Homo sapiens: one gene and its partners. The protein of the gene in region 1 interacts with the protein of each later gene in a pairwise test. Each region holds a gene or a part of one and is shown on either strand. Other genes may lie near its edges. The genes, in order: DDX17, CFAP418 and NFAT5.

Evidence for each region.
Region 2: the proteins of DDX17 (region 1) and CFAP418 interact in a two-hybrid assay, tested with the Homo sapiens proteins (one study listed by IntAct).
Region 3: the proteins of DDX17 (region 1) and NFAT5 interact in binary tests that used the Homo sapiens proteins (3 or more experiments, as listed by UniProt).

What each region holds. Positions count from the first base shown.
Region 1 is NC_000022.11:38,487,302-38,497,734, reverse strand, and holds part of DDX17 (probable ATP-dependent RNA helicase DDX17 isoform 1 precursor), read left to right. Parts: intron 1-1,797; coding exon 1,798-1,939; intron 1,940-2,688; coding exon 2,689-2,849; intron 2,850-2,932; coding exon 2,933-3,105; intron 3,106-3,603; coding exon 3,604-3,714; intron 3,715-3,963; coding exon 3,964-4,025; intron 4,026-5,619; coding exon 5,620-5,679; intron 5,680-9,619; coding exon 9,620-9,856; coding exon of another isoform or gene 9,857-9,862; intron 9,863-10,433. UniProt on the Homo sapiens protein: As an RNA helicase, unwinds RNA and alters RNA structures through ATP binding and hydrolysis.
Region 2 is NC_000008.11:95,264,894-95,275,506, forward strand, and holds the start of CFAP418 (cilia- and flagella-associated protein 418), read right to left. Parts: upstream 4,309-10,613; 5' UTR 4,297-4,308; coding exon 4,142-4,296; intron 3,998-4,141; exon of another isoform or gene 3,943-3,997; intron 1-3,942. UniProt on the Homo sapiens protein: May be involved in photoreceptor outer segment disk morphogenesis.
Region 3 is NC_000016.10:69,567,286-69,577,718, reverse strand, and holds part of NFAT5 (nuclear factor of activated T-cells 5), read right to left. Parts: intron 9,225-10,433; coding exon 9,171-9,224; intron 1-9,170. UniProt on the Homo sapiens protein: Transcription factor involved, among others, in the transcriptional regulation of osmoprotective and inflammatory genes. Binds the DNA consensus sequence 5'-[ACT][AG]TGGAAA[CAT]A[TA][ATC][CA][ATG][GT][GAC][CG][CT]-3'.

The DNA of each region.
Region 1 (10,433 bases):
GGCTGGTCTCAAACTCCTGACCTGAGGTGATCAGCCCACCTTGCCCTCCCAAATTGCTGGGATTACAGGCATGAGCCACTGCGTCCAGCCTTCTTTCTTTTTTTTTTTTTTTTTTGGAGATATATTCTCACTCTTGTTGCCCAGGCTGGAGTGCAGTAGCGAGATCTCAGCTCACTGCAACCTCCGCCTGCCAGGTTCAAGCCATTCTCCTGCCTCAGCCTCCCGAGTAGCTGGGATTAAAGGCGTGCACCACCACTCCCAGCTAATGTTTGTATTTTTAGTAGAGACAGGTTTGCACCATGTTGGCCAGGCTGGTCTGGAACTCCTGACCTCAGGTGATCTGCCTGCCTCGGCCTCCCCAAGGTGCTGGGATTACAGGTGTGAGCCACCGCGCCTGGCATTGAATGTGTACTTTTTTTTTTTTTTTTTTTTTTTTTGAGATGGAGTTTCGCTCTTGGTTGCCCACGCTGGAGTACATTGGCACAATCTCGGCTCATTGCAACCTCCACCTCCTGGCTTCAAGCGATTCTCCTGTCTCGGCTTCCCAAGCAGCTGGGATTACAGGCATGCGCCGCCACACCCAGCTAATTTTTGTATTTTTAGTAGAGACGGGGTTTCACCATGTTGGCCAGACTGGTCTCGAACTCCTGACCTCAGGTGATCTGCCTCGGCCTCCCAAAATAATGGGATTACAGGTGTGAGCCACCACGCCCGGCCTACTTAACTTTTTTAAGAAATAAGCTTGCATTTGTCCTATATATTTATGAACATGTACAATATGTCTCAAGATATTCACAAAAAGAAATAATGCAGTACTTATAATACATAGTATATGTCTGACAGCATTATTATTAGTTGATATCTAATGGATCAGTATATAAAGCAAGTTTCATAATTTAATTTGAATGGTATATGATACCTTGATTTTTGTATTATTTGGCCAGATTGTACACAGTCTTGTCAGATTACATGTAAATTTTCATTGTTTTTGCCTTATCTACCTGGTGATGTGCTTAAATTAGAGGTCAGGAATGTGTCATTCTGCCAGTTTAAGTCAGGATGACCATCCAAAATTCCAAATTTTAGGCCAGGCATGGTGGCTCACACCTGTAATCCCAGCACTTTGGGAGGCCAAAGTGGGCAGATCACATGAAGTCAGGAGTTCGAGACTAGCCTGGCCAACATGGGGAAACCCCCATCTCTACAAAAATACAATAATTAGCTGGGCATGGTGGTGCCTGCCTCTAGTCCCAGCTACTCAGGAGGCTGAGGCGCAGGAGAATCATTTGAACCCAGGAAGCAGAGGTTACAGTGAGCCTTCATTGCACCACTGCACTCCAGCCTGGGCGATAGAGTGAGACTTTGTCTCAGAAAACAAAACAAATCCAAATTTTGAGGACCAATATGATCCTCAAAGTAAATGCTTGCTGGAGCATTTTGGTTTTGGGGGTTTAGGATGCTCAACCTGTAAATGAGAGTTGTATACTTAAAACCAGGTAATACAATCTATATCTCCACTTAAACAGTATATATAAACTATAATGATTGATAATGTGTCATAGTAAAAGTGACGAGGATACCAGTATCATTCCAAATGCTAAACATGAAGTTCTAATAATTTTTTTCTATATTCCATTGTGCTAATATTCCCCACTTCTGATCTTCACCCCATCACTTTTAATGTGCTAGATTAGACAGCAAAGAATTAAATTAGCTTTTTGTATTTTGTTTCTTCTTTTTTTTTTTTTTTTTTTTAAACCTTGGATGAGGTCTCAAGTGTCTTTTTGTTGGTTTCAGTGTCTAGTTCTGGCTCCTACCAGAGAGCTTGCCCAGCAAGTACAGCAGGTGGCCGATGACTATGGCAAATGTTCTAGATTGAAGAGTACTTGTATTTATGGAGGTGCTCCTAAAGGTCCCCAGATTCGAGACTTGGAAAGAGGTAATAATATATAGTGTAAAAGAATTGTTAGTTTATCTTACTTTACCAATTCCTGTGGAGGAAATTGGAGAAAAAAAGTGGGTTCTTGTGATAAACTCAGAATTTCAGCAGCTTAGAAATTCTCAGATGTGACTAAAACAGCTATTTTGAGAGAGAAGGTTCAGCATGGCTGGAAACTTTGTGAGGATTTGGTGATTGTACATAAGTCCTGACATGGTTTTGCGGTTACTTTGTTAAAATTTAGCTTCTCTGGGCCAGTGCGGTGGCTCATGCCTGTAATCCCAGCACTTTGGGAGGCCGAGGTGGGCGGATCACGAGGTCCAGAGATTGGGACCATCCTGGCTAACATGGTGAAACCCCGTCTCTACTAAAAATACGAAAAATTAGCCAGGCGTGGTGGCAGGTGCCTGCAGTCCCAGCTACTGGGGAGGCTGAGGCAGGAGAATGGCGTGAACCTGGGAGTCGGAGCTTGCAGTGAGCCGAGATCGTGCCACTGCATTCCAGTCTGGGTGACAGAGCAAGACTCCATCTCAAAAAAAAAAAAAAAAATAGCTTCTCTGCAGCATTGAGTACAGCCACCAGGGCTGCTGCTGCTGCATTTTTGTAGAGTCGGGGTCTTGCTATGTTGACCAGGCTGGTTGTGAACTGGCCTCAAGCGATCTTCCCGCCTCCTCTTCCCAAAGTGCTAGAACACAGCTGTGAGCCACTGCACCTAGTCGATTGGCTCGATCATTGGTTTTGTTTTACAGGTGTTGAGATCTGCATAGCCACTCCTGGACGTCTGATAGATTTCCTGGAGTCAGGAAAGACAAATCTTCGCCGATGTACTTACCTTGTATTGGACGAAGCTGACAGAATGCTTGATATGGGGTTTGAACCCCAGATCCGTAAAATTGTTGACCAAATCAGGGTGTGTAAAGCTAATAATAAGCAGTCTTTATGCCATTTGTCCAAGTTCCTTAGCCTGAAAGAAAGCCTTTCCTTTTTTGATAGCCTGATAGGCAGACACTGATGTGGAGTGCAACCTGGCCAAAAGAAGTAAGACAGCTTGCAGAGGATTTCCTTCGTGATTACACCCAGATCAACGTAGGCAATCTGGAGTTGAGTGCCAACCACAACATCCTCCAGATAGTGGATGTCTGCATGGAAAGTGAAAAAGACCACAAGTATGAAAGATATTTTACTCTGATTTGATAATGCTGATAAACCTTTTCTAATAACCCTCCAAAATTAGTACTGTAGAAACCAGTATATTTTGAGGCCTGAGAACATTAAAAGCATTGCTAGGTTTCTGATAATCCATCATCATATCATTTGTCAGAGCATTATGGTTAAATGCAAGGATTCTGAATTCTTGAGTTTGAAATTTAGCTCTGCTGATTACAAGCTGTATAATTTTGCACAATTTTGTGTCTTGGTGCTGCAGTTTCTTCATCTGTGAAATGGGAGTAATACCACTTACATGAGACTTGCTGTGAGGATGGTATGAGTTAGTATTTCTTGAGCACATAGCAGAACCTGACTCAGTACTCTAATAGTTATTAAAAATTTTAAAAGCGTAATGTGCAAAGAAAGTACTGTAGCCTTGGGAGTTGATATTGCAGACATAATCGTCCACATAATAACTTTCTGTGTGATGACTGCATTGTTGGTCATGTTTTCAGGTTGATCCAACTAATGGAAGAAATAATGGCTGAAAAGGAAAACAAAACAATAATATTTGTGGAGACAAAGAGACGCTGTGATGATCTGACTCGAAGGATGCGCAGAGATGGGTGAGTATAGCACCAAGGCAATTAACCTCTGGTTTTATAGTTAACTGGAAATTTCTAAATTGGTATTCCAAATGTTGTGTAATATTTCAATAATGCCTATCCATGCAGTTTGCTCTTTTAATGAGCACAGTCATCTATTCATGAAGCCTGACAAACCTTACAAAAATTGCATGATAGCATTTGGCTTTAAAGTTCGATTTTCTCCACTTTAAAAGATTTTTAAAATATTGGTCACTTTTCTTCTGATAGTTGGCCAGCTATGTGTATCCATGGAGACAAGAGTCAACCAGAAAGAGATTGGGTACTTAATGGTAAGTTTAAAACTAAGCATTTTCTGTTGATTCCCCACCCCCTGCCCATAAGTGAATGTTCATGCTCTATTTCAGGGATAGGCAAACTTTCTGTAAAGGGCCACATAGTAAGTATGCTTGGCTTTGTAAACCAAATGGTGGTCTCTGTTATAGCCACTCAGCACTGCTGTTTTAGGACAAAAGCTGTAGGCTGTAGATAATATGTAAAGAAGTGGCCTGGACTGGGCACCGTTGGTGGCTCATGCCTATAATCCTAACACTTTGGGAGGCTGAGGCGCGTGGATCACCTAGGCCCAGGAGTTCAAGACCGGTCTGGGCAACATAGTGAAATCCTGTCTCTAAAAGAAAAACAAAACAAAACAAAACTTAGCCAAGCTTGGTGGTGCACGCCTGTAACCCCAGCGACTCCGGAGATTGAGGTGGGAGGATTGCTTGAGTCTAGGAGACAGGTTGGAGTGAGCCAAGATCGTGCCACTCCAGCCTGGGTGACAGGGTGGGACCCTGTCTCAAAGAGATAAACGTGGCTATGTTCAGACAATATTTATTTGCAAAAATAGGCGTTGTGCCAGATTTGGCCCAAAGGCCAGTTTGTCTTACCCCTGTTGTATAGTTGATTGAATTACTGAGGGTACTTTTAGCGTGTGCTCATGGTTCTTTAAGGGCCACGATGCTGGCTCTTTAAACTTTTTCACAACTTTCACCACCCTCCCTTTATTAATAAAGTCTTCAATTTTTTCCTTCTGATTATAAAAATATAACTACCGTTTGGGGAGAATTAAACTGTTACTGAAATATTTAAAGAAAAATGTTTCTTAATGAGTCATATTTTAGCATATTTCCTTTCAGTCCTTTTTTTCAGGACTACTCTTAAGGGAAGCCATTGAGAAATGGAAGAGGCCATATTTTGTTTAAGAAATAAAATGTGGCCGGACACAGTGGCTCACGCCTGTAATCCCAGCACTTTGGGAGGCTGAGGTGGGCGGATCACCTGAGGTTGGGAGTTCGAGACCAGCCTGACCAACATGGAGAAACCCCGTCTCTACTAAAAATACAAAATTAGCCGGGCATGGTGGCATATGCCTGTAATCCCAGCTATTTGGGAGACTGAGGCAGGAGAATCGCTTGAACCCGGGAGGTGGAGGTTGCGGTGAGCTGAGATTGCGCCACTGCACTCCAGCCTCGGCAATAAGAGCGAAACTCCATCTCAAAAAAAAGAAAGAAAAATAAATAATATGCATACCTTTTGGGGGGAAATTCAGTTCTTTTCATTCTACATCTTTTGAACTTGTTTCCTACTGACCCCCAACTTTTGGTTGTGTCTCATTTGGGAAATAACTTTAAGGGGAAAAAAATCTAGCTCATATTAATTATGTAACAAATTGCCACACTCTCTTAACGGTATTTCATTATTAGTAGAGGTAACTATTGTGCTGCTGAATATGAGTGTAATAAAGATTTTCAAAAGAATCACTGTCAGTCATTACAAGAGCTTGGGATTTTCTGGCACCATTATTTGAAATTTTAACATGGTTATGTAAACAGATCAGATAGCAAGGAATGCTTATTTGATGATGATTATTGTTTGTTTTTACAGAGTTCCGTTCTGGAAAGGCACCCATCCTTATTGCTACAGATGTAGCCTCCCGTGGGCTAGGTTTGTATAGATAGGTGTCTCTGTCAATGGTATATGTATCTTTTGGTTTAAAGATTCGTCATTTCAAATTCAGACTTCAAGTTTAGAAAGTTGTATATACATGTGGTTAGATAAATATTTGAAAGAAAAAAATACAAAGCGTGATTCTCCCCATTCCCTGCCCCCCCCACAATTTTTTTTAACTTTGGTTTCCCCCACCCCCCTTTTATTTTCAAAGTCTCTTCCTGCTCCTAACAAACAGGCTTTGGTCTGCAGCAAGGCCTAGGCATGACTATTCAAACAGAGGGAGAGGAGACAGACAGCTGAATGGCTCAGCTTCTCTCTGGTGGTGGTTTCTGGCTGGATAGAATAAGCCTGACGAAACCTAGCTATTGTAAGCTAGTTTCTTCAGTTATTCTTTTCCCTATCCCTGTCTAAGCTAGATATATACAGAGAGGTCCAGTTTTATGAATGCTTATTAGATGGAATTTTATAAGTCTAATGCAGTATCAGAATAGCAAATATGTGTATTGCCCAGTTTAATTTACTGAGGTCAAATTATCATGGGCACTTGGCTATCCCCTCCTACCCATGCACTTATCTGTAGGTGTGTTATCAACTGATGATTTTCTGGAGTTTTTGACCCATTACCATTTAAGATATACAGAGAATTTTATGGTAGTTTAGCCCACTATTCTGAGCTAAACAGGTCTAACTCAGAACTTCTATATTTTAAAAAAAAAGATTATTTGTATTACAAGGAAATCCTTAAATTATTGACAGGTATTTAATTTGCCCAGTAAGGTGAGAAGTACCATATTATTCCCTTATACTATATAATATAAAGAGAACAGGTATTCAAACTGGAATACAAAAGTAATGAAGCCTTTTTATGCATTGCACTCATCATTCCCTCCTTCAGAGGTGGTGACCTGCAGCCATGATGGAAAGTTCTCTCTGCCCCTCTGCCCTCTGAGGTCATGTCTGGATCTGTGCCATTAGAACTTGGGCCTGTTGGGAGAGGAGGCGGAGGCCTGAAAGCAGTTTACATAAAGCTTTCAGTAATGGTTGGTTTTTAAACAGGCTTGCTATGTGCTGGTAGCTTCTTTGTGCATCTTGCCTAGACAATTAAAAATATTTGCTCCATGTCCCCTTGCATTTCTAAACCAAATTAATTGGCTACCATTAGAATAACTTAGACTCTTCATCCCACCCCCACTCATCCAAGTGAGGGGAGAGGGAAGGTACCCGAGTCTGTTTCTTGTTACTCAACATCAGTGCTTGTTTTGGGCCCCTTTGTTTGCTGCCTTGTAAAAAATCAAAAGAGGGAGAAAACCCACCAAAATGGCAGAATTCTGACCAATGTCCTACAAGATCCTGGAAAGTGAAGGCTTCTACCTCATAGACAGGGGTGCAATTTTCAGCTGAGTCACCAGGGCCTTTTTTCACTTCCTGTCAAGCGATGGTCTCTTAAATGTTCCCTTCAGGTAAGTTCTTTGATTCCCATAATTTTATAATAGTCATCCTTAGGCTACCACTTCCCTTTCCACTGGGATATTTTTTATTTTTCCTTTTTTTTGTTTGAACTACACACTGTTAAACTAAAAGTATTGAATTTATTTTGTTTTGTTTTTTAACAGAAGCTTTGATATCAGCTGCAGATCACTCAATACATGGCCGAGACAAATCTACATTGGCCGGAAGCAGCTCTAGATGAGCCTCTTGGCTAGACTTAGTCCCTCCTTATTAGTGATTGGCGATTCAGGCCATGTCATAGGGCCTTTCAGACAAAAGGTTCTTATCCCAGTCAGCTGGCCAAAACATTAACTTTGGATTTCTTACCCTGCTACAGCATCTTCTAGAAAGGCAGCAAGATAATATTGTGGCAGTGCACAGATAACATCAGGGTAGACTTGACTGGAGAAAACCAAATTCTGCGCTTGCTCCTGTGTGCCCCCATCCAGCTGTGCATGCACACACAGGACACCTTTCTAGTATGAAGAACTTGCATCATGTCTGCCCTCTATTGAGCACCCCCTTCTAGAAATACTTCCAAGTATTAGCATGTGAACTGTTGACTCCACCCTGGTGCTTTCTGCTAGGAAAGCACACTTAACGCATCCAGTGTAGTAATTGAACTTGTTCTACTGCCATGGTCATATGCAGTGGGATTGCATAAGGAGCATTATCCTAGCTCTGAAGATACCATGGAGTAGAATTCCCCACCCCCTGTCTTACATCCACCCTGGCCCTGTAAATTCTTTTTTCCTTTGTTGCGTCAACGACCCTAGCCGGAGACTCAAGCTGCCCCCTGTGATAAGTGCCTTCTCGTCTTTCTGGTGTGATTCAGGACTTTAGGGGTCAGTAAAGACCGAGGAGCCTTTATTGTAATAAGAAACAGACATAATGCCCCTTCTTCACAAGCCCTGTAACAACAGCTAATTTTTTTTTTTTAATCTCCCCTTTCTCCCTTGAAATTAATCCAGTCTGGGCAATAGATGCAGTCTGACCCTTTGGATGTAACTTACATTTTTTTTTATTAATTATTTTTTTCTACAATCACCCCAATTATCCTTGGGGGAGGCGTTGGAGGACCTGAAATTTTTACCCGAACCCAGGTTCTCCGGCGCTTGGCAACCAAATGGGGCTACAGAGAAGCATCTAAGCCAGTTCACAGAGCGAGCGTGTGTGGGGACTTCTCACTGCCACGGACCCTTGATGCATGCTCCCCGCGCTCCAGTGGTCCCGTGTCAGAAGGCGGAGTTTTCGAAAGGAGGCCGCCAAAAATAAAAGGCAAAGAGACGGGATCGGCTGCAGCGGTTTCCCAAAGGAGGAGGGAGTGTGCATCGGTCTGGTAACAAACAGAGAATGTTTTTTAATTATTTATATCACAAAAATCTGTGTTTTATCTAGGATATTTTCTGAATATTCTTTGTAAAATGCAGATTTTTTTCCACAAAACAGTAGGATTCTTTGTTATATTCTTAAAATTGTTTGTTTAAGTAGGTAAAAATATACATTCAGCTGAAAGCATTACACTAACATTTACATTTTAAGCCTTAGGAGGTTATTCAGCCCAATTCCCAGCAGTAGAGAGAATACTAAACTTGTGTCTCAAGGTTTCATGGTTTTCCCACGTTCTTTGGCTATTAATTTAATTTCCCAGGTCACGTAGACAATCATTGATAATTGAAACAAGTCCTGAGTTGAAATAACCTTGAGTTGAGCAAAAATATCCTCATTTTGGCAGAAGCTGGGCTTGGTAGTACAGTAAAATTTTAGTGTAATGTGCTCTTGTAATTGAAAGGGGATAGATAATCTGGATGTTTCTGCAAAGGAAAATAGGTGTGTACTTAACAGCTTTGGCTCTACTCAGTTTCTTAAAAAGATAAGAGCAAAAAAAGTTAAATGTTAATCAAAACATTTAAGTTTCCTTTAAATTGTAGTAATAAAATATATGAAGCTCCTTTTTTTACTTTGCTCTGTGACTGGTTTAAAGGTAAGTTTGTTATGTTGTTGGTAGATTTTGCCAGGCTTCTCCCAACAGAGTAGAAGTGATTTGGCCTCATAACTTCACAGTGGTTTACCACTTTGTTCTATGTTCTGGTTTTGTAAAGGATAGTACTGGAATTTGCGTCTGAAGACCAATATTGGTGTAACTCCTGTCAGTATATTGGTAAAATGTAGCAGAGGCAGGAGTTTGGATGTTTGGATGGGATTCCCTTAGGATTCTACAGCCAATAAAGATCCTATTTCCTATGCATGTCCCAGGAATCAGTAATCCTCTTTTACTCTGTTGGGATGAGTCTTTTTTTGTTTCTGTTCAGAGTGGTTACTAACTTCACCTTCTTTCCTCTTGCTGTCATCTGCATTCGTGCTTCCCACCTGTTGTTGGCATGTCCTTTACCTTCTCTTTCCCTGCCACATCAACCTACACACTGACTCATCATTGACGTGGAAGATGTGGAAGATGTCAAGTTTGTGATCAACTATGACTATCCAAACAGCTCAGAGGATTATGTGCACCGTATTGGCCGAACAGCCCGTAGCACCAACAAGGGTACCGCCTATACCTTCTTCACCCCAGGGAACCTAAAACAGGCCAGAGAGCTTATCAAAGTGCTGGAAGAGGCCAATCAGGCTATCAATCCAAAACTGATGCAGCTTGTGGACCACAGAGGAGGCGGCGGAGGCGGGGGTAAGGGTAAGTCCTGGAGTTTTCCAGGTACTGCCAAGGTATCTCTTTACGCCTTCTGTGACTTGCTTTTAGTTGCTGTTTTTAAGAAGGCTGTAAGTATGTTGCTTAATAGCAAAGGACACTGCCTAATGCTTTTTATAACCTTTTTCAACTAAGAAAACGTGAAGTTTGTTGTGATAGTCCTATTAGTTAAGCTAAATTGTGAATTTTTTTTTCTTAGAGACTGGTCTGAGGTTTGGTTTTGTTTGTTTGTTTGTTTTGAGACGGAGTCTTGCTCTGTCGCCCAGGCTGAAGTGCAATGGCGCGATCTCAGCTCATTGCAACCTCTGCCTCCCAGGTTCAAGTGATTCTCCTGCCTCAGCCTCCCAAGTAGCTGGGATTACAGGCACCCGCCAGCACACCCTGCTAATTTTTGTATTTTTAGTAGAGGTGGAGTTTCACCATGTTGGCCTGGCTGGTCTCGAACTCCTGACCTCTGGTGATCCACCTGTCTTGGCCTCCCAAAGTGCTGAGATTACAGGAGTGAGCCACCAAACCTAGCTGAGGCTGGTCTGTGGAGTTTCACCATGTTGGCCTG
Region 2 (10,613 bases), on another chromosome or scaffold:
CTTCCTTTGACTTAGAGGTATGCTCAAGGCTTGCTTCTTCAAAGAGACACTTCAAAAAACCCCTGTCTTGAAGCTGCCACCCTTTCTTACTCACTACTGAAGAATAGTCTATATCCACGATTTCTACTTCCTTACAAGTAGACTAGATTTAGAATCAGTTGGGTGCTAATCCTAGGCGGGGGTTTCTCAGCCTTGGAATTATGGACATTTTGGGTCAGATAATTCTCTGGGGTGTGTATGTGGGGGCAGGAGACTGTTGTATATTGCAGGACATTTTACAGCATCTACCCACTAGATGCTATTAAATAATAGCACACCCTTCCCCAGGTGCGACAATAAAAAATGTCTCCAGACATTGCCAAATGCCCCTTGGGTGGCAAAATCATCACCAGTCTAGAGATACCGACTTAGTTTAAATTATTTAATCTCTCTGAAACTCAAATATTTTATCTATAAAAATGATATCTAGATGACTATTTAAAATTTCTTTCAGGTATAATATTCTACTTCTGGCCTCTAATCCCTCAACTATAGTGAAACTCTTCTCTCGAAGGTTTCCACTGCCCAAATCACTACAATCTAATGGTGGTTCTCAGTTCCAATCCTCTTTAATCTTTCAGAAGCATCTGACACTGTTGGGTACCAATTCCTTATATTTCTTTTTCGATAAGAGGTTGCTAAGATGTCCTCTTAAAATTCTCTCCTTTGGCTTTCAGGACATACTTTCCGGGTTCTCCTCCCTCATGCAATTTCACAATTTCAAGAATCAGATACATCCAAACTCCACCAACCTAATCAGTACTGTTACAGATCCAAATTACCAGCTTACATAAGATTCTGGTCTGTTCTTAGATCACACAATTTCAAAATGCCTACACTTGCCTATGCTTTGCTATAGTAATAACAATAAAGTCAACATTTCATTGAGAACTCATAATTTTAAAGGACTGTATAAGACTCTTTTTGGTCTTTTGATGTGACAATAATCTCAATCAAATGTTAATAAGCTTTTACTGGTTCCCTTTCTGACTCTGTTTCTGACATTCTAATCTTTTAAAGATATAGTTTCTGCTGAAAATAAAACATATATTTAAGATAAAATATAAACACTTAAACCTATAATTAAATGTGAGAGGTATTATATAGAAAGCTTAAATCTAGATCTACTATGTCCTTGTGATTTAGCAATATGACTTTAGGCAAGTAACTAAGCATTGATTTGGTCAATGAAATGGGGATAACAGTATTCACGCATGGGATTGTGAAGATTAAATGAAATAACATATACAAAGCACTTAGCATACAGAAAGAGCTCAATAAATGTTGGCTGTTATTATAGTTATCATCTAGAAAGCTATATTATCTTTAAATATTCCCATCTGTATCATCCTGAACCACTTTATTCCTATTGCAGTTCTTCTCAACCCACATCAGTCTTTTTTAATTTTTTTACTAATCACATATTTCTTTTTATCATTTTGAACACTTCAACAAATTGCATGTTTTGACCTCTTACATTAGCAGTTGTTCCTGGTATCCAGATGTAGCATGGTCATTTATAGTATTATTTGCATTTATAGTATCATTTTAAGAGGTAATATTAGTATTTTAACTCTTATAAGAGATACAGGTTACACTGCTATACAATTAGTAGGTAATCTCCTGTCAATAAATTCAAACATAAATTGCTTCCTAGCTTTTAAGTATAAATTTTGGCTCAAGGAAAAATTTTAATATATAACATTATAAACCAGGTTGGGACTATATTTGGTATAAGGTTTAGGCCCTTTGTTGCTGTTTTTTGTACAATTTACAACTACATTGCCAGATGAAAAGTTTTAATATAAATGACAACAGTACTGTTTCACTAAGGCTTTTATGTTACTTAGTACTAAAAAAATCTAATGTATTAAGGTGGGCTGAGGTACTAGAAATATTATGGATGAATTTTAGTAGAGCAAGAACAGGCATGACACAACCCATGGTTGGAGAAGATCCACATAAATAGTCCTTTCCATTTTGAGCAGCTGGCTTCAATACATCCTGCCCCTCCGCATGCTAGTTCTCCTAAGATGAACAGCTCTGAAAAGCTCCTTGATAGACTAGTTCTATCCCCTAGAAGGACAAACGAAAAGTACTAAAGAAATTGCAAAGCAACACTGTTGTGGGATAGGGATGGTAGATGCGCTAATAGATACATAAGGAATTCCAGTACACAAGATAATAAAAGTTAATGAGAGTGATATTTACAACATCCAGCCAAATGAGTGTTAGCCCATTCATAGTAATTATAGTTGTTTCTAATTTTTGTTTTAAAATGCTGCTCAGAACTCAACTAATTTTTAGAAATTTTGTTTATGTACTCCTTTAGAATTTTTTCGATGCTTTTATCTTCGCAGAGTGAATTTTTATAAATAAATGTCACTGACTGGGCACGGTGGCTCATGCCTGTAATCCCAGCACTTTGGGAGGCCGAGGTGGGTGGATCACGAGGTCAGGAGATCGAGACCATCCTGGCTAACACGGTGAAACCCCGTTTCTACCAGAAATACAAAAAATTAGCCAGGCGTGGTGGCGGGCGCCTGTAGTCTCAGCTACTCGGGAGGCTGAGGCAGGGGAATGGGAGGCGGAGCTTGCAGTGAGCTGAGGTGGGCCACTGCACTCCAGCCTGGGCGACAGAGCGAAACTCAAAAATAAATAAATAAGTAAATAAAATAAATAAATATCACTGGAGGTAAGCCAGGTGAACTGGATAGTAACAGAGTTGGATAATACTTTGGGAAATCACACATACACACACCAAAAAACCAAAACCAAACCAAAGATGCAGCAAAAAAATTAACGGAGATGACGTTCTTAGATTGATCCAAAGTTGCCTCCGTGTAATTTCACAAGCGTTTCCAAAATATTCTAGGCAAGAGGCAATTTCCAAAAGATTCTAGCAAGAGTTACTGAAGGTCAATATTCTTATGCAAACATTTTGTTTTTTTTTTTTGAGGGGTTGTGGGGGAAATGAGGAAGTGAAGGAAATCCTATTATTTAATAATTACATGGAGGAAAAACGACTGGTAAATTTGAAAGGTAGTTTTTAGATAAAAAACCAAAATACCTTAAGAAATGTCCTTAAATTTCCATATGTATGTCTGGCACCCTTAACTAGGGGGCCATGGAGAGAAGGAAGGTAGACGGTTTAATGTTCACAATAATTAACCCTTTTGTAATGAATTTAATCTCATCTTAACTCCCTGAGTTAAAAAAATAAAACAAACTGAGTCAGGTGCGATGGCTCGCAACTGTAATCCTAGCAGTTAGGGGAGGCAGAGGCGGGAGGACAGCTTGAACTCAGGAGTTCAAGACCAGCCTGGCCAACACAGTGAGACTGTCTCTACAAAAAATACAAATTAACCGGGCTCGTGCCTGTAATCCCAGTTTACGTAATCCCAGATTACAGGCTCGTGCCTGTAATCCCAGCTAGGGTAGGCCGAGGTGGGAGGATCTTTGAACCCGGGAGTTGGAGGCTGCAGTGAGCTACGATCGTGCCACTGCACTCCAACCTGGGCGACAGAGCGAGACTCCATCTCAAAAAACAAACAAAACAACAAAACTGAGCTAAAGACAAATAGGATTGACCTGGGGAGTGGGGTCTGAGGCAATGGGATGAGGCTGTCTAACAGGGCACCTCACAGGGAGATGAGAACCGCTTGGCCACACAGAGGCAAAATGCGGCCGAGGTCAGCACAGCCCTCTCGGGGTTAAGAACGGGGCGCCTGAGGGGTATCCCGGTCCCCGACTAGAACCTCCTACGCGCTGGCAGCCAGAAACAGGATGAAGGAGACTGGCGCGGACTGCGGGCTCTGCGGGCGGGGCGGGGCGGGGCGGGGCGGGGCGGGGCGGGGCGGGGGCCAGCCCTCTGGGGCATGCCGGGGGGCGGAGTCTGCGCTGAGTGAAGAGGTGCCAGAATCCGCGAAGAGGGTCGACGAATGCGCTGCCGCGGAGGGTAGGGCGCTGAGGGTCTGAACCCTGATGCAAGGAGGGGCTGGAGGTCGCGGGCACGTTTCTTTTGGGTTGGGCGGCGGAGGGGCAGCTCTAGGGCCTGGAGCAGGGCTTTACCAGAACAGTCCACCCCTCCCGCCCGGTTAACCTGAGCGTCTCTTTCGCCTTGGCTTGGTTCCGGTCGCTACTGTGGGTGCCGCCGCCGCAGCCTTTGGGCTGCTCGACCATACCCCGTCTTAGAAGGTCAGGTGTGCAAAACTTGGACTCGACTTCATCCAAGAGCTCGTCCAGGTCCTCCGCCATCTTGAATCGCCTGGCCTTTTCCCCTCCAATCGCCAAGGCTCCGGTGGTTTCCAGGAGTAACGAGGGGACCTGGCGGGCTCCTGCCCCGTTAGGCGTCCCCGCGCATGCGCACCGCTTCCCGTGGCAACCCGGCGCCCACGAGGGCTCGCGGCAGAGAACGCGGTGGGTTCGTGAGGGGCGGGCGTATGCAGGGACAGAGTTCGGAGCTGTCTCTGCAGTGTGTCTGTGTGACTCGCGATGCTTTGCGTTTCTTCCTTTCAGCATGTCTGGCGTGGTTCCTCCCGTCTCCCCCTCCCGGGCCCACGTTGTAACCACAAGCACGCATTCTCGCCCCTTCATTCTCTCCTCTCCCGTTTGGGTCCCTGTTGTGTTTCAGCCGTTTGTAAATTCCTGAAATCTGTGGAAGGTTTGAGCAGAACGCTCTAAAACACAAAAAGTAAGTGTTGACGGCAAAAAGCTGACATTCCCGTAGTCGGCAGGATTCGAACCTGCGCGGGGAGACCCCAATGGATTTCTAGTCCATCGCCTTAACCACTCGGCCACGACTACTGGCTGTGTGAATTTTTGCGGTGAGAGTGCATGTAGACTCTGCATAAGCGTCTGCTGCAGCAATAGGCACGTTTTGATGTGGAGGAAACCATTACTGAGCTGTTCTGTTAAGAGCATATTTGAATGTTACCTCGCTCATCATTTTACAGTTTGTAAAAGTCTTAGAACGTATCCCGTCCAACTCTTTGTTGGAAAAAACGGAAATTCTAATTAAATCCGAGAGAGAGAGAGAGAGAGACAGAGAGAGAGATGCGTGCTCAAAACTATTGCACACCCACTTGCTTGCACAATGTTGGAGCCATTTCCAGGAGAGAACCAGGAACCGGGTAGGGGCCAACCAGCTTCCCGACTTCCTTGTGGGGCTGCCAGTTCCACTCCTTCGCCTTTCTCTTTGACAAACGGCTCCCAGGACTATCTTTTCACCCATTATACATTAAAAAGCTATTACCCAGCGATTTAAATTCACTCTGCAGGGTCAGACAGTCCCACCGTGCCATAAAAGCACTACTTTGAAAAGTGTAAAGCGTGATACAAGTGTAAGGTATTGTAAATGGCATTCTTAATAAATACTGTGCATAGTTTAACCTGTGTTTTGGGTATTTCTAAAGTGGGGTAGCAAAGAGGTTGGCACCCTTGGGAACTCTGGAGATAGTTTGATCCAGATGATTTGTTTGTTCAAAGTATCTTTTAAGGTCCCTGAAGAGCAACATGTAGTGGTGTGCTGGAGCCAATGGGACATGCTCACTCCTACCCAGTGATAAATTTTCAAGGATTTTGGGAGCTAGTTGTTAAATGCAATTATTATTAAATATTAAATTATGCAAACTTGCAATTACATTATGTTAAAAGCAAATATGATACTCAAAATTCATATGCTAGTGATTCCACTACCTTTTACTATTATTTATAAATATAATTGAGATTGTTTACATCTGAAAGACTTTCTCTCTTTAACTTTCCATTCAGTGATGTCACTTGGGAAGCTTGAAATGAGCCATAGTGGGTGTTATTTACATGAGGGAAATTGCAAATGTGACAAAGCAGGGCTTTTTATCCCTAGGAGATGAAAGATACTTTGAACAAACAAATCATCTAGATCAAACTGTCATTTAGTAGAACACCCCATGTTACCATCAGACCAACTGTGAATATTCTCAGCAAGGCAACACTCCCCTTTTCTGCAGGGCTGCTCTATTTATTGTCTCTGAATCTTTGTTTTAGCTATTAGAATCCTGGCCTAAACACACACACACACACACACACACACACACACACAAATATGCATATAAACATATATGTATATTTACACACACAGGGGAAACTAGCATTTTTATGCAAAATACTTAACATTGAGCACTGACCACTCAGATCAGACACTGTCAGGATGCTTAAGTAGTATCCTAGAGGCACCCTGACATGTATTACCCTTGTAGTCAGAGTAGAGAACTCTAGAGGGTGGGGAGACAATGTTGGGGCAAGGAGGGGACTCGGACACTAGTTATTTGTCTAGAATCCTGGCATATTCTATGATTTCCAACTAATTAATTTTTTAAAGTTTTTTTCCAAGTTGCCTTGCTGGGCGATTTTACCTAGAACCGGTCTCTAGCAGAAAGGCAAGGAAAAGCTGCTTGAAAAAGCGGTCCTTGCAACATGGTTCCAGGGGAAGTCATAGTTAGTGGCCATCCAGTTTAACAGGCTTACATTAATGATTTGATTTTGCTCTTGAGAAGATGAAATCTGAGGGGATCTGTACCAATGTTGAAAGTATCTGTTAGCGGCCGGGCGCGGTGGCTCACGCCTGTAATCCCAGCACTTTGGGAGGCCGAGGCGGGCGGATCACGAGGTCAGGAGATGGAGACCATCCTGGCTAACACGGTGAAACCCCGTCTTTACTAAAAATACAAAAAATTAGCTGAGCGTGGTGGCGGGCGCCTGTACTGGCAGCTACTCGGGAGGTTGAGGCAGGAGAATGGCGTGAACCCGGGAGGCGGAGCTTGCAGTGAGCCAAGATCGCGCCACAGCACTCCAGCTTGGGCCACAGAGCGAGACTCCGTCTCAAAAAAAAAAAAAAAAAAAAAAAAGAATCTATTAGCGTGTAGAAGATTTGCAATGAGAGATGGTGAAAAAATAAAAGAGAAAATGTTTCTGGTTTTCTGTGTTTTGTTTTTTGTGTATATTAGAAAAAAATTAGTGTGTTCCCTCGCTCCCTCACTTCTACTCCCATTTTTCTGGTCTTTTGATTGGATAATTTATTCCGTTTACATTTTAAAATTTCATTTTATTGATTTTATTTACTTTCAGTAGCTTTTGGGGTACAAGCGGTTTTTGGTTACATGGATGAATTGTATAGTGGTGAAGTCTGAAATTTTAGTGCACCTGTCACCCGAGTAGTGTACATTATACCCAAAAGGTAGTGTTCTTTTTTTTTTTTTTTTTTTCCCAGACGGAGTTTTGCTCTTGCTGCCCAGGCTGGAGTGTGCAATGGTTTGATCTCTGCTCACCACAACCTCTGCTTCCTGGGTTCAAGTGATTCTCCTGCCTCAGCCTCCCAAGTAGCTGGGATTACAGGCATGTGCCACCATGCCGGGCTAATTTTGTATTTTTAGTAGAGACAGGGTTTCTCCATGCTGTTCAGGCTGGTCTCGAACTCCTGACCTCAGGTGATCCGCCCGCCTCAGCCTCCCAAAGTGCTGGGATTACAGGCGTGAGCCATCACACCCAGCCTCCAATAGATAGTGTTACTATCCTTTACCCCTCACCCGTCCTCCTCTCTTCTGAGTCTCCAGTGTCCATTATGCCACTCTGTATGCCTTTGTGTACCCATAAATTAACTCCTACTTACGAGTGAGAACATATGATACTTGGTTTTCCATTCCTGCCCACTCCCATTTTAATAAAATGGATGTATGGATCATCCAGAGTTTGGTATTTTGAGAATTTCATTTATGGCTCATTCAACTCTCCGGTGGGTCTCCTGACTTGAGTCATGTTCTCTTTCTGGTTTGCCACCGAGAGTGAAAGGTTGAGTTCAGAGTCTACAAGGAGAAATGCCATATGTCACATAAGAGTAACATATGTGTATGGCTGTGTGATAAACTGTAAAATTACAGTGCACTATTAAAATCTCCAGATGTCAGAAAGAAAGTTATACAGTTAAAAATTCAGTGGGCTCTAAACAATGGATGTGGATGTATAAGATGAAGGTAGTGTGGCTTTAGAAGATTCTACATTCAGGCAAATCCTATTAGATCATTTTTTTTTAAACCGGGCTATAAATTCCTTTGGTATAACTTTCTGTTTAACTAACAATCTTATTTCTTTCTCCATAATTGTTAACGTGTGTAGACAATGTCGTGAATCCTTGTCCCCTGTCTTTCCCAGTCATGGAAAGCATGCTGAGTGTCAGGTATTTCGTAAAGAATAGGCAAGTGCCTCCAGGTGATACAATTATTAACATGGTAAAGGAGACCGGGTGCCGTGGCTCATGCCTGTAATCCCAGTACTTTGGGAGGCCAAGGCGAGCGGATCACTTGAGCCCAGGAGTTTGAGACAGCCCAGGTGACATGGCAAAACGCTGTCTCTAACAAAAAAATTACAAAAATTAGCCAGGCATGGCAGCGCTGCACCTGTGGTCCCAGGTATGTGGTAGACTGAGGTGGGAGGATGGCTTGAGCTCAGGAGGTGGAGGCCGCAGTGAGCCGAGATAGTGCCACTGAACTTTAGCCTGGGTAAGAGAATGAGACTGTCTTAAAAACAAAACAAAAAACATGGTAAAGGGGCATGTCATGTATTATTACATTCACTTAGTATTCAAGGAAGTATTTTAGGTAAAAGGTGTCCAAATTAGGAAACCAAAGCACTGTTGGCTTTCCCAAGAATCTGAAGAACTCTCTGAGCCTGGTTTCTTGCTAGCACCATTATAAATGAGTTAGAGGTGGTGAGGCAGCTGGTTCTGCTGTCCCACGCCGCCTCAGGCCAACTGCTTCAGTTACAAGGTGTTCTGTAATCTCCCTGGCTGCTCACATAATGAATTGCAAGGCTTCTTTGAATTCCCATGTACTTAGGTTTAATTTTCCCTTCCCTGCATCTTTCCCCTGCATACTGCAGGCCTTTTAAACAAATACCCACTGGTGGGCGGTGACATTGGCATGAGGGGAGGCATCCTCCTGGATCAGTTGCAAGCCTCCTAGCAGCTGATGCCATGGAAGAATGGAGTAGCACCGAAGCAGCTCCAGTTCTTTTAAGTGGTCCCTGAATTAGGCCTCGATGTCATGTAGGTAAATTCAGCCCAGAACATGCAGAATCTTTATTGGAATTTGTACATTCATCTCTCACAGCTGTGGAGAGTTTAGACTAATCACAACTCTCACTGGGATACTATTATCTTGGTAATTTGAAAAAGGATCAGGAGCCTGCAGGCTTGGAACATCTTGAGAAAACTCTGGCTCTGAAATACATCATCACATGTGGGGGACACCACTTGCGGCATCATCGCAGAGAGCTGAAGAATGCTGAAATCAAGTATTTCTGTGGCGTGATTTCAAATAGCTTGAGAAATCTGAGAACTTTTTTTTTTTAACTGCAAAACAGATTCTTTCCTCTTCCATCAACCCGGTTGCTGTCAATATGTCCAGTGTTAGGTGCCAGAAATGAGCATAGCCTCTTAATGATAACAATGCCAAGATTAACACAGCCACCAGGGGCTCTCTCTAGAATCTGTTAGGGTGTATTTTGATCCACAGACACGTTCTGAAGGCGTGCACCTCCTTAGCTTTTCCAGTCTCAGTACATTTCTCTTCAGCAGCCTGGATAAAACCTGTCACTTTTTGCCAGAACTTCTCATGCTTTGGGGCCCCTCAGACACCATTTTTCATTGACCCCATGAGTCCATATGGTAGGGCTAGGTTCAAAGTTGGTATTTGGGAAACAGCTTCTGACAGCACAGAGGCCTGGTGTACTGCGGTCATTTGTTCAAAAGGCCAGGATTTGCAGATGTGCTATAAGAGTGTAATATAATTTTTGACCCCACCCAAATGGGTATTTTATCACCATCCACATAGCAACCAACAAACAGATGAGTCTGAGGAGGCAAGCGCTAATATATGTGGCTCAAACCAGTCAACCCTCTGAGGAGTCAGTAGTTCAGCCTCTTTTTGAGGCTTTAACATCACAGTGGTCCTTTCAATTCTACAGTTATGTGAGTACAGCTCCTTCCCTCCCCCCTTTTTCATATTGTTTTTTGTTTTATAATTTTTAAGCTTTAGAAAGTTAAGCCTAATTCAAAAAAAAATTGGGGAAATAGGGGAGGGGAATAGCAATTTCAGTCAGGCATTAAAATGAAGGCAAAGTGAAACCAAATTGATGGAGGTGATGGGACATGTTCCACAGGCCTGGGCTTAGGTTTGGTGTCCATCAGTCTTCCATTTCCCTTGATTGGCCATATTGCCTCTTGGGAAGGAACCCAAGGTTTTATGCAGACCAATTTGCTCTATTTCCTCAGTTACCGACTCACATGTCAACCAATCTTTATGGCCTTACAAAAGGTACCTGTTGGTATCGACCTTGCCATGAACTGTCTAAGGAATATTTGGGGGCTGGAAAGGACTTTAGTGATAATGTATAAAACTCTTTCAGCTGAGGTTGCAGTGATCCGAGATCACGCCACCGTACTCCACTCCAGCCTGGGCAACATACTGTGTCTCAAAAAACAAAAAAACACCTCTTTCATTTGATAGATAAAGCAATCAAGATCAAGCCCAGAGTGGTGA
Region 3 (10,433 bases), on another chromosome or scaffold:
GTGTAATCACATGGTCAAGACAGAGAACATTTCAATCATTCCGTAAAGCTACTTTTGGTCCTTTGTAGTTAATCCTGCCCACTCCAGCCCCAGGCAACTACTGATCTGCTTTTTCTTACCATAGGTTTGTCTTTTAAAGAACTTCACATAAATGGGTCTATACAGTGCGTACTCTTTACCTTTTTGTTGTCGTTCAAGCACCACAACCTTCTAAAAGGGAACACAGTATTTTTAAAACTGGGTATAAAGGTAATAAATTTTTTGTTCTTTTATAGATTCCTATATTATTCCATAATATAGCCAACCATATATTTTTCATGTATATGTGCAAGTATAGGTTACTTAGCCATAATAGTGTTATTTATTCATTCACTCAAGATGAATTTACACATAGGTTCTGGCCCATGTTGCTTATAGCTTATTAGAAGAGACTAAACCACAGGGGGAGGGTTAACTTCTAAACTACAATTTACAATAGCAAACCTCCTTTATAGACGTTTGTTTTCAGAAGAAGGGAAATAGAGAAAGGATACAAGATGCCATAGCAGAACAACAAAATGTATAGACTACCGTGAGAAAACGGATACACGGGGTGAAAGGGGCAGATTAAAAAAGACAAAGCAGAAAGAACCAAAGTAAATTAATAAAGGCTCTATGCAAAATACCACTATTCACATAGCTCACATTAGTACTATTTCTTCTGTTGCTCATCTCTTCTTGAATTTACTTTGTCTCTGAAACATACTAGCAGAAATAGGGAACAATGGCATCCATGCTTCCATAAAACTACTGCCAAAGAAATCAAGAGCCCCACGGCACCTTCATTTCTAAAGTAATTCCCCTTAGGTGGTGGCTTCTGCTTAGCCTTCTCCTACTTTTCACTTCTGAGTCCCATCATCAGCCAGGAGAGAGGTATTTCTTGACCTCCTGGGCTCATGTGATCCTCTCACCTCAGCCTGCCTCCCAAGTAGCTGGGACTACAGGTGCGTAACACCATCCCTGGCTAATTTTGGTAGAGAGGGGGTTTTGCTACGTTGCCCAGGCTGATCTCGAACTCCTGAGTTCAAGCGATCCGCCCACCTCAGCCTCCCAAAGTGCTGGGATTACAGGCGTGAGCCACTGAGCTAGGCCAACATAGGTGTTTTGATCAGCCATCACTTCCTCTAAATGTTAAAGACACTCACCAAAGCCAGGCAATGATTTGCTAATTTTGAGTATTAAAATCTTCCCCAAAAGAGTCATAATCATATTCTTTATGAATTTTTGTATGTAGTTTATAAAATTTGTCTCATTACTTTATGGAAGCTGCTTAGTAAAGAATCCTACACAAACTATTCTTTTTATACCATCTGAACAATGGTGTAATCTTATTAGGGCCCAAAGTATAAATGCCAATTTCAAACGTTCTTTTTTTTTTTTTTTTTTTTGAGACCGAGTCTCACTCTGTCGCCCAGGCTGGAGTGCAGAGGCGCCATCTCCGCTCCCTGAAAGCTCCACCTTCCGGGTTCAAGCCATTCTCCTGCCTCAGGGGACTACAGGTGCCCGCCCACCACGCCCAGCTAATTTTTTTGTATTTTTTTAGTAGAGACGGGGTTTCACCATGTTGGCCAGGATGATCTTGATCTCCTGACCTCGTGATCCGCCCACCTCGGCCTCCCAAAGTGCTGGGATTACAGGCGTGAGCCACCGAGCCCGGCCTCAAATGTTCTTACTGACTGTTAAGACAGTCAATATAATCTCACAGCTCTGGGGTAAAACTGGTGAAGTTCAAATTCCAGCCTCATCCACGAGATATGTGCCCTTGGGAAAATTAGTAGATCCCTCTGTACCTCAGTTTGTTCATTTACGAAATAGGGATACTGGTACTACATCGCAGGATTTTTCTAAGAGTTAAATGTGAAAAATATATGTAAAATGGTGTTAAACATAAACTGCTTGACATATAAATTGCTCAAAAAAGGTTTTCAATTATTACTAACACTGAATTTATTCTTTTGACTAGCATGTCCTACAAAGATTGCCTCAGGTACAGTTTTTTTTATTAAAACTAAATTTTTTTCTTCTCTTGCTTTATTTATTTATTTTATTATTATTATTTTTTAAGACAGGGTCTTGCTCTGTTGCCCAGGCTGGAGTGCAGTGGCATGATCCCATGATCATGCAGGCTCAATGCAGCCTTGACGTCCTGGGCTCAGATGATCCTCCCACCTCAGCCTCCTGTAAAACTAATTTTATAAAGATAAGCATAATCAGCCAGGCCCAATGGCTCACACCTGTAATCCCAGCACTTTGGGAGGCTGAGGCGGGCGGATCACCTGAGGTCAGGAATTCAAGACCAGCCTGACCAATAAGGTGAAACCCTGTCTCTACTAAAAACACAAAAATTAGCTGGGCATGGTGGTGTGCACCTGTAGTCCCAGCTACTCATGAGGCTGAGGCAGGAGAATTGCTTGAACCCAAGAGACGGAGGTTGCACTGAGCCCAGATCGCACCACTGCACTCTAGCCTAAGCAACAGAGAGACTCCGTCTCTAAATAAATAAATAAATAAATAAGCATAATCAACAACTTAGCTCACTATTAGAAACTTTTCTGTTCTTCTCTCATCTTCAAAACTAAATACCAAATTCAGTAAAAGACTAATCACAGTGTTTCCTGAATGAAAAAGAAGTGATAAACATTCATGGGTGGGAAGCAATAATGATCATTACCTATTTACCACATAAATGTTAAAAATAAAAGAGAATGGGCTGGGCACGGTGGCTCATGCCTGTAATCCCAGCAGTTTGGGAGGCTGAGGGAGGCAGATCACCCGAGGTCAGGAGTTCGAGACCATCCTGGCCAACATGGTGAAACCCCATCTCTACTAAAAAAATACAAAAAATTAGCTGGACATGGTGGTGCGTGCCTGTAATCCCAGCTACTTGGGAGGCTCTGGTGGGAGAATTGCTTGAACCTGGGTGACAGAGGTTGCAATAAGCCAAGATTGTGCCACTGCACTCCAGCCTGGGTGACAGAGCACGACTCCGTTTCAAAAACCAAAAAAAAAAAAGAGAAAAGTATATATTTTTCAAAAGCTATTAAGAACAAATAAAAGTAACTGAACTCTCATGTAACAAATGTTTAGTTCAAATGATTAAATATATATATCCTTTATTACATCAAGTTTATTTATTCTGAAAGCTAGATCCATTATCTGTAGTTAACTCATAGAGGAAATCTCTACCTTTTCACTCAAGTACATAATTATCATTGGTCTTATACTCTGTTAGTTTATTTAAACTTGACTTTTATTAACACAAAAGCAAACAGAAGACACAGCAACCTTCTTTGCGTAACTTGAAATAAAATCTTAGCAACAGCAAGAAAAGACAATAATACAAATTAATAAGCAACATTTCTATTGAAAAATGTCTTTTACCTCTCTAAAGTTAAAAGGTCTATATCCTATGCCACTGAATAATCTTTATTTTTTTCTAGTTACCTGTTACTCTTAATATAAAATATACTCTGAGGAGTCAACTTTTTCATATAAAAAGTGTCTGTTTTGGCCGGGCGCAGTGGCTCACGCCTGTAATCCCAGCACTTTGGGGGGCCGAGGTGGGTGGATCACCTGAGGTCACGAGTTCGAGACCAACCTGACCAACATGGAGAAACCCTATCTCTAATAAAAATACAGTATTAGCCAGGTGTGGTGGTGCGCCCTTGTAATCCCAGCTACTTGGGAGGCTGAGGCAGGGAAATCGCTTGAACCTGGAGGTGAAGTTGCGGTGAGCTGAGATTGCACCATTGCACTCCAGCCTGGGCAACAAGAGCGAAACTCTATCTCAAAAAAAAAAAAAAAAAAAAAGTGGCTGTTTTTTATATATAATACTAATCACACTGGGAAATGTTTTTCTGTACTACCACTTTGAAATTTTAGGGGACTCCTGGAATAATCAGAGTCAAGAGTAAATTAAAATCAGGCCAAGAACCACTGGATTAGAATATGAATTTATATCCTTTTATTTTAAATAAGCAATAGAATTCCAGTATTGAGTGAAAATAATGAAAGCAGAGTTTAGGAAGGGACACAAAAACAGGTGGTAAGCAATCAGAAAGAGATGGATCTAAAGACAAGAAGCTGGGATGAACTAGGTATGACTTTTGACATGTTTGAACTTCATTATTTCCATAATACTTTTAGTTTACTAGACATGGATCCACAGAGATTATTAGATACTAAACAAGAAAAGAATTCAATAGATTATTTTTCATGTTAAATGTTTTCAAAAAATCCTTTCCAAAAAGGTATCTTTGTACATAAAATATTATAGGCATTTATGATCTATGATATAACAAGGGCCCTAGGAAGAAATATAAATCAGAAATATTCTATAAAGTCAATAAAACATTGCTACTATGTTTAGGATTTTCCATTTTTGCACTATGAAGTATAATTCTGGATGGTACCATATCAAATAGATTAGCAGTAGTAAAAAAAAAATCATAGTTTATTTTCTCTTAACTCATTGTCATATTTCACATTTTCTTTTAAAAATCTTCCGGTCTTAAATGTTTAATTTAAACAAAGATTGTGGCCGGATGCGGTGGCACATGCCCGTAATCCTAGCACTTTTGGGAAGCCATGGAGGGTGGATCATGAGGTCAAGGGATCGAGGCCACCCTGGCCAACATGGTGAAACCCTGTCTCTACTAAAAATACAAAAATTAGCTGGGTGTGGTGGCACGCGCCTGTAGTCCCAGCTACTCAGGAGGCTGAGGCAGGACAATCACTTAAACCCAGGAGGCAGAGGTTGCAGTGAGCTGAGATCATGCCACTGCACTCCAGCCTGGCAACAGAGTGAGACTCTGTATCAAAAATAAATAAATAAATAAATAAATAACAAAGATTATATCAGATCAGCATTTAGCTCTTATTTAACCAGTTCTTTCATTTGATATATAATCTCTTAACTCATGCTTTTAAAATCATTAAAATTGTTAAATCTATTGTTTATATTTATCTATTTTTCCAATTTGTTTATACTCTTATTTTTCCTGTTTTATCTATGATTTTTCTATAATCTTATATTTCTCTATTTCTAGAATGATTCATTCAGTTTCATTTCTATCTTAGTTTTTCATTTGCCAAAATGAATAGTTTTCATTATAGAATGTACAACAAATGGTGCCTTTTCTCTGCAGCTGAATTTTTTTCCCAGGCACTTCAAAAAGGAATCCTAGCCTTCGAATTTGAACTTACTAATGGCAAACAATTTTATTTAAAAAAAATATATAAACCATGTTCTTTAAAGATGGAAAATACAAAAATAGAATTGAAAAATAGAAAATCAGTGATGTATACTTTTGTTCAGGATTTTTGTAACACAAGTTACTTTGAATATAATTGTAACAGCATAATTTTTATTTACTTATTTTATTAAGAGTGTCACATGTTAATTATGGGGTTACCAGAAACATCATTTAATGGCCATGTATTATAACATTAATTAATTAGCCAGGACCCTTTTCCCATTGTCAGGCAATCATCGTATTAAATTTAAAAAGAGGTTGCAAGAAAGACTAGCACTGTTTTGATAGGAAGGTTAAATGCAAACTCAGTTGAATAGTAGACATTTTGAATCTACTTCTAAAGTTTAATAATACCCAAGCGCAGGCCAGGTGCGGTGGCTCACGCCTGTAATCCCAGCACTTTGGGAGGCTGACGCAGGCGGATCACGAGATCAGGAGATCGAGACCATCCTGGCTAATATGGTGAAACCCTGTTTCTACTAAAAAATCCAAAAAAAATTAGCCGGGCGTGGTGGCAGTCGCCTGTAGTCCCAGCTACTCAGGAGGCTGAGGCAGGAGAATGGCGTGAACCCAGGAGGTGGAGCTTGCAGTGAGCCGAGATCGTGCCACTGCACTCCAACCTGGGCGACAGAGCAAAGACTCCATCTCAAAAAAATAATAATAATAAATAATAATAATAATACCCAAGTGCAGGTTTTCCAACCTTGTTTCCCCCCAAAAAAAAAATTTAAATTTGGAAAACGTACGTTCTATAAAAAAATTAAATTATATCACACCAATTACTTAAATTCCCCTCACTCTGGGCCAAGTTTTTAAATACTATTTATAGATGAAAATCTAGACTACTGATGTAAAACATGCATACATAAATATTACTAGACAGAACTTGATAGTATATACCATTGGGAGTTAGTACAGCACAGTAGTCAAGAGGCTAGGCTAAAGTGAGACTACCTGGGTTGGAATTCTGGTTCTACAATTTACTAGCTTGTGACTCTGGGTGAGTTATGCCTTCAATTGCTCATCTCTAAAGTAGGATAATAATAACCATCTCAAAGGGTAGTCAGGAGAATTCGCTGAGTTCTTATTTTGTTTGTTTGTTTGTTTGTTGTTGTTTTTTTGAGACAGAGTCTCACTCTGTCACCCAGGCTGGAGTTCAGTAGAGTGATCTTGGCTCACCACAACCTCTGTCTCCCAGATTCAAGGGATTCTCCTGCCTCAGCATCGCGAGTAGTTGGTATTACAGGTGTATGCCACCATGCCTGGCTTTTTTTTTTTTTTTTTTTTTTTTTTTTAGTAGAGATGGGGTTTCACCATGTTAGCCAGGCTGGTCTCAAACTCCTGACCTCAAGTGATATGCCCACCTCAGGAGTTCTTATTTGTAAAGTTCTTGGCACACAGTAAACACTCTACAGCTAGCATTTAGTTTTTAAAAATTTTTTAACTTTAGCTAACATTTACTGAGCACTTAGCATGTGCTAAATTAAATGCTTTACACGAATTTGCCTCAAATAATCTTCACAAAAACCTAGGATGAGGCACTATTATTGCTCCCGTTTAAAGATGAGAAAATTGAAGCAAAAAAGATTAAATTATTAGGCTAAGGCCATACAAGTAAATGTCAGAGCAACAATATGAACTCCAATCTAGCAGCATGGCCTACAATTTCAACATAGGTTATAGGATATACTATATACTAGAAGCGGTAGCCTCCTGCAGCACTCTGTCTTGAAAAGAGGGCAGGAGAGTCACAAGAGACTTTGCTGAAATAAACTAGAATATTCCAAGAAATAGTTTATAAACTATACAGAGTAATTAAAAATTAATACAATAATTATATTAACAATTAAATTATATCAATAATAATTAATATAAGAAAGTCACTGTAATACAGAAATACTTATGTATGAAGTGATCTGATGTTTGATATTTGTTTTAAAATAATCCAGCTTGAGAGAGAAGAAGGGATAAAAGAAGCAAGATTAGATACTGGTTAAACTGTGGTGATGGGTATATGGGGCTTATTTTATTCTCTCTACTTTTATGTATTCTTTAAAATGTCAATAATAAAAAAGAAATAGCAATGAGGTGGCACAGATTAGACACTTCATTACAGAAGCAAACAACTTTTTTAAGACACCCTGTCTCAAAACATTTTAAAGGGCATGACAGAATTGATACTTATACATGTTATATTTTATATATAATTTCTAAAAGGGTAGCCTTACTTTAAATGAGAATCCCCTTAACTAAAATGAAAAATTAACGAAAGTATTTAGGCATAAACATGTAAATAAACATGCTAAATGGTTGTCTGTATTTCCATCAGCTCACTAAAAATATTTGCTTAAATAATTAACACTCATTTTTTTCTTCATGTCTTTCTCCTCCCTGATCATCTCTATGATTATGACACTCTATGGTTTGTTGTCCAGGAAATGAGATGGGTTTGTACAGACAAATATGTCTCTACAACATGGTCACAAATTGAATATGAATAAAAACCAGAAATCTGCTTCACTAAGAAACACTGCTAAAAATTTCTCACTTCAAATTGTAGTTTTAAAAATATTTGATTTTCATACTAATGTATATCTATGGGCTTCTTACACGTACAAAACAAATTTAACCAATTATTTATTTGAGAACATTTTATATGCTCTAAATTATACTGTTAAAAAAATTTAGCTGATACTAAAGGAAAAAACTAACATTTATTAAGCTAGACGCTATGCTAGGCAATTTAATACACATTAGCTCACTAAATTTAAGAGACAGCTACATTTTAACAGGAAGAATATTAAAGTTTAGAGAGGTAAAATCACTTGCCCGAAGTCACAGAACTAATAAGGAGCTAAGTTGGTATTCAAATTTAAGCTCAACTACAAAACCCACTTGCCCCCCACTATCCCGGACTACCTCCAAGGGAGGCAAAAATCTTCTCAAGTCAAACTTAAATATTTAGGGCCTTTTTAAAGTAGACCATAAAATGTTTGTTACTGGTTACATGTGTATTTCACGGTGGCCGCTTTGCATAAAGAGCACTAACTGAAACGCAGAAAGTATTATTTCTTCTACTGTGGGACTTTTTTTTTTTTTTGGTTTCTTAATTTCAGCCTTAGTTTCTCTTCTCTACAATGGGGAAATTAGTACCTTTGCTGTCCAATTCCAAAATTATAAAGATTTAAAGATGATATATGTGAAATCACTTCAAAATCTACAAAAACACAAGACTATTTTATGTCTTAAAATGTTAAAACACACACACACACAAAGCCAAAAGTTTTCTAAAGTAAGTGTAAGCTGTTTAAACTAATCTACAGACTCTATTAACATTTCCAGAACTTTCTAAACCCCTTTCTTCTAAGCATAGCTCAATCATCATCGCTATTACTTGGCTTTCCTTACCCTTAAGTATAATGCAATAACAATGGCATCAATGCTTTTGCAATAAATAATTAACATATTTTGAAATGCTCAGCATATAAATGTTCTAAATTCTGAATTTTCAAACTAATTATGTGTTTGGTGTCACTCTTTTATATTCATGTTAATGTTTGGGCCTTTTCACATTCTATTTTGTGTATAAAAAGCTAAAATGAAGGTCTGGAATTCTAAAGTAGAACACTCAACACATAATTTAAAATGATTTTTTTTTCAATGTTTCTCAAAGCAGATAGAACAGCCAACAAGCACATCAAACGCAGCAACAAAACCCATTGAAACATTCAGCTGCTCTAAAAGAAGGATCAGACTCTTTAGGAGAAAACTACATTGTGTGAGTTTGCAAAGTTTCATACTTTCCCATTTAAACTCCATTTCAGAGAAAGCCTTTGCATACTAACACAATATGCTTTAAAATGGTACTTTGCTGACCTTCCAATAGTCCAGCTCTATGAAAATTCTGTGATGGGTGTAACTTCAGAGAATCTGAAAAACACAAAAAGCATTAGGTACTTTTTATGCTGAATGAGGAAAAAAATGCCAAGGATAGCATACATCTCTTATATAACTGCAATGTGTGTGTGTGTATATATATATATATATACACACACACACACACACACACACACACACATATATATATATACACACATACATTTTGAAACGGAGTTTCGTTCTTTTTGCCCAGGCTGGAGTGCAATGGTGCGATCTCGGCTCACCGCAACCTCCGCCTCCCGGATTCAAGTGGTTCTCGTGCCTCAGCCTCCCGAGTAGCTGGGATTACAGGCATGCACCACCACGCCCGGCTAATTTTGTATTTTTAGTAGTGACGGGGTGACGGGGTTTCTCCAAATTGGTCAGGCTGGTCTCAAACTCCCGACCTCAGGTGATCCAACTGCCTCGGCCTCCCACAGTACTGGGAATACAGGCGTGAGCCACTGCGCCCGGCCAACTGCAGTGTATTTTTAAGCGCTAAAGCCCATATTTGTGAATATATTCCCCGCAAAAGAGGCTGAATTGTCTCTACATTGGTCTCGAAGCTAAACTTAGATTTTCATAAAGTATATGTTTCATGGAAAATTATCTGATGATTACTCCCCAAATGGTGTTAATGTCTTGGCTATTTTTAGCACTCAATTCTAACACATTAGCCCTGCTCTAAGAATCATCTCTTGATATGTCTCTTTTTTTTTTGACATTCAAAACTACAATATTTCTAAAGTACCTCAGGTAATGTTGCCCGAAAAACATCCTACAGGATGGTGGCTGCCAACTAAAGTCATTGGAGCAACAGACAGTGGCTACAATTACTAAGTAGGACTCTGTGTACAAAATCAATGGTCAGTCTGTAAAGTCCAGCACCTTTCAGAGTAAACCATCTCACTCTGATTCACTTAAACAATTTAGATACACTAGTAGGAAGGTGAAGTCCCTTTTTTGGAGGGGGTGGAATAAGCAAATGGATGGATACATCAAACCAAAAGCAGAAGAAACACCTACATTTTTTTTTACACGGTGAAATGAATAGTTAACAACCCAGTTATGTCTTTTGCCCCCTCCCGGTGGTTTAAAAAGCGTAAAGAGCGCAGTGGGAATATTTTGGTTTTGAAGCCCCTTGCACAGGGAACCTGTTCTGACACATTCTTGTGGTGTCCAGTAAAGGAATTTCACCTGAGTAGGGATCAGCTCCAGTGC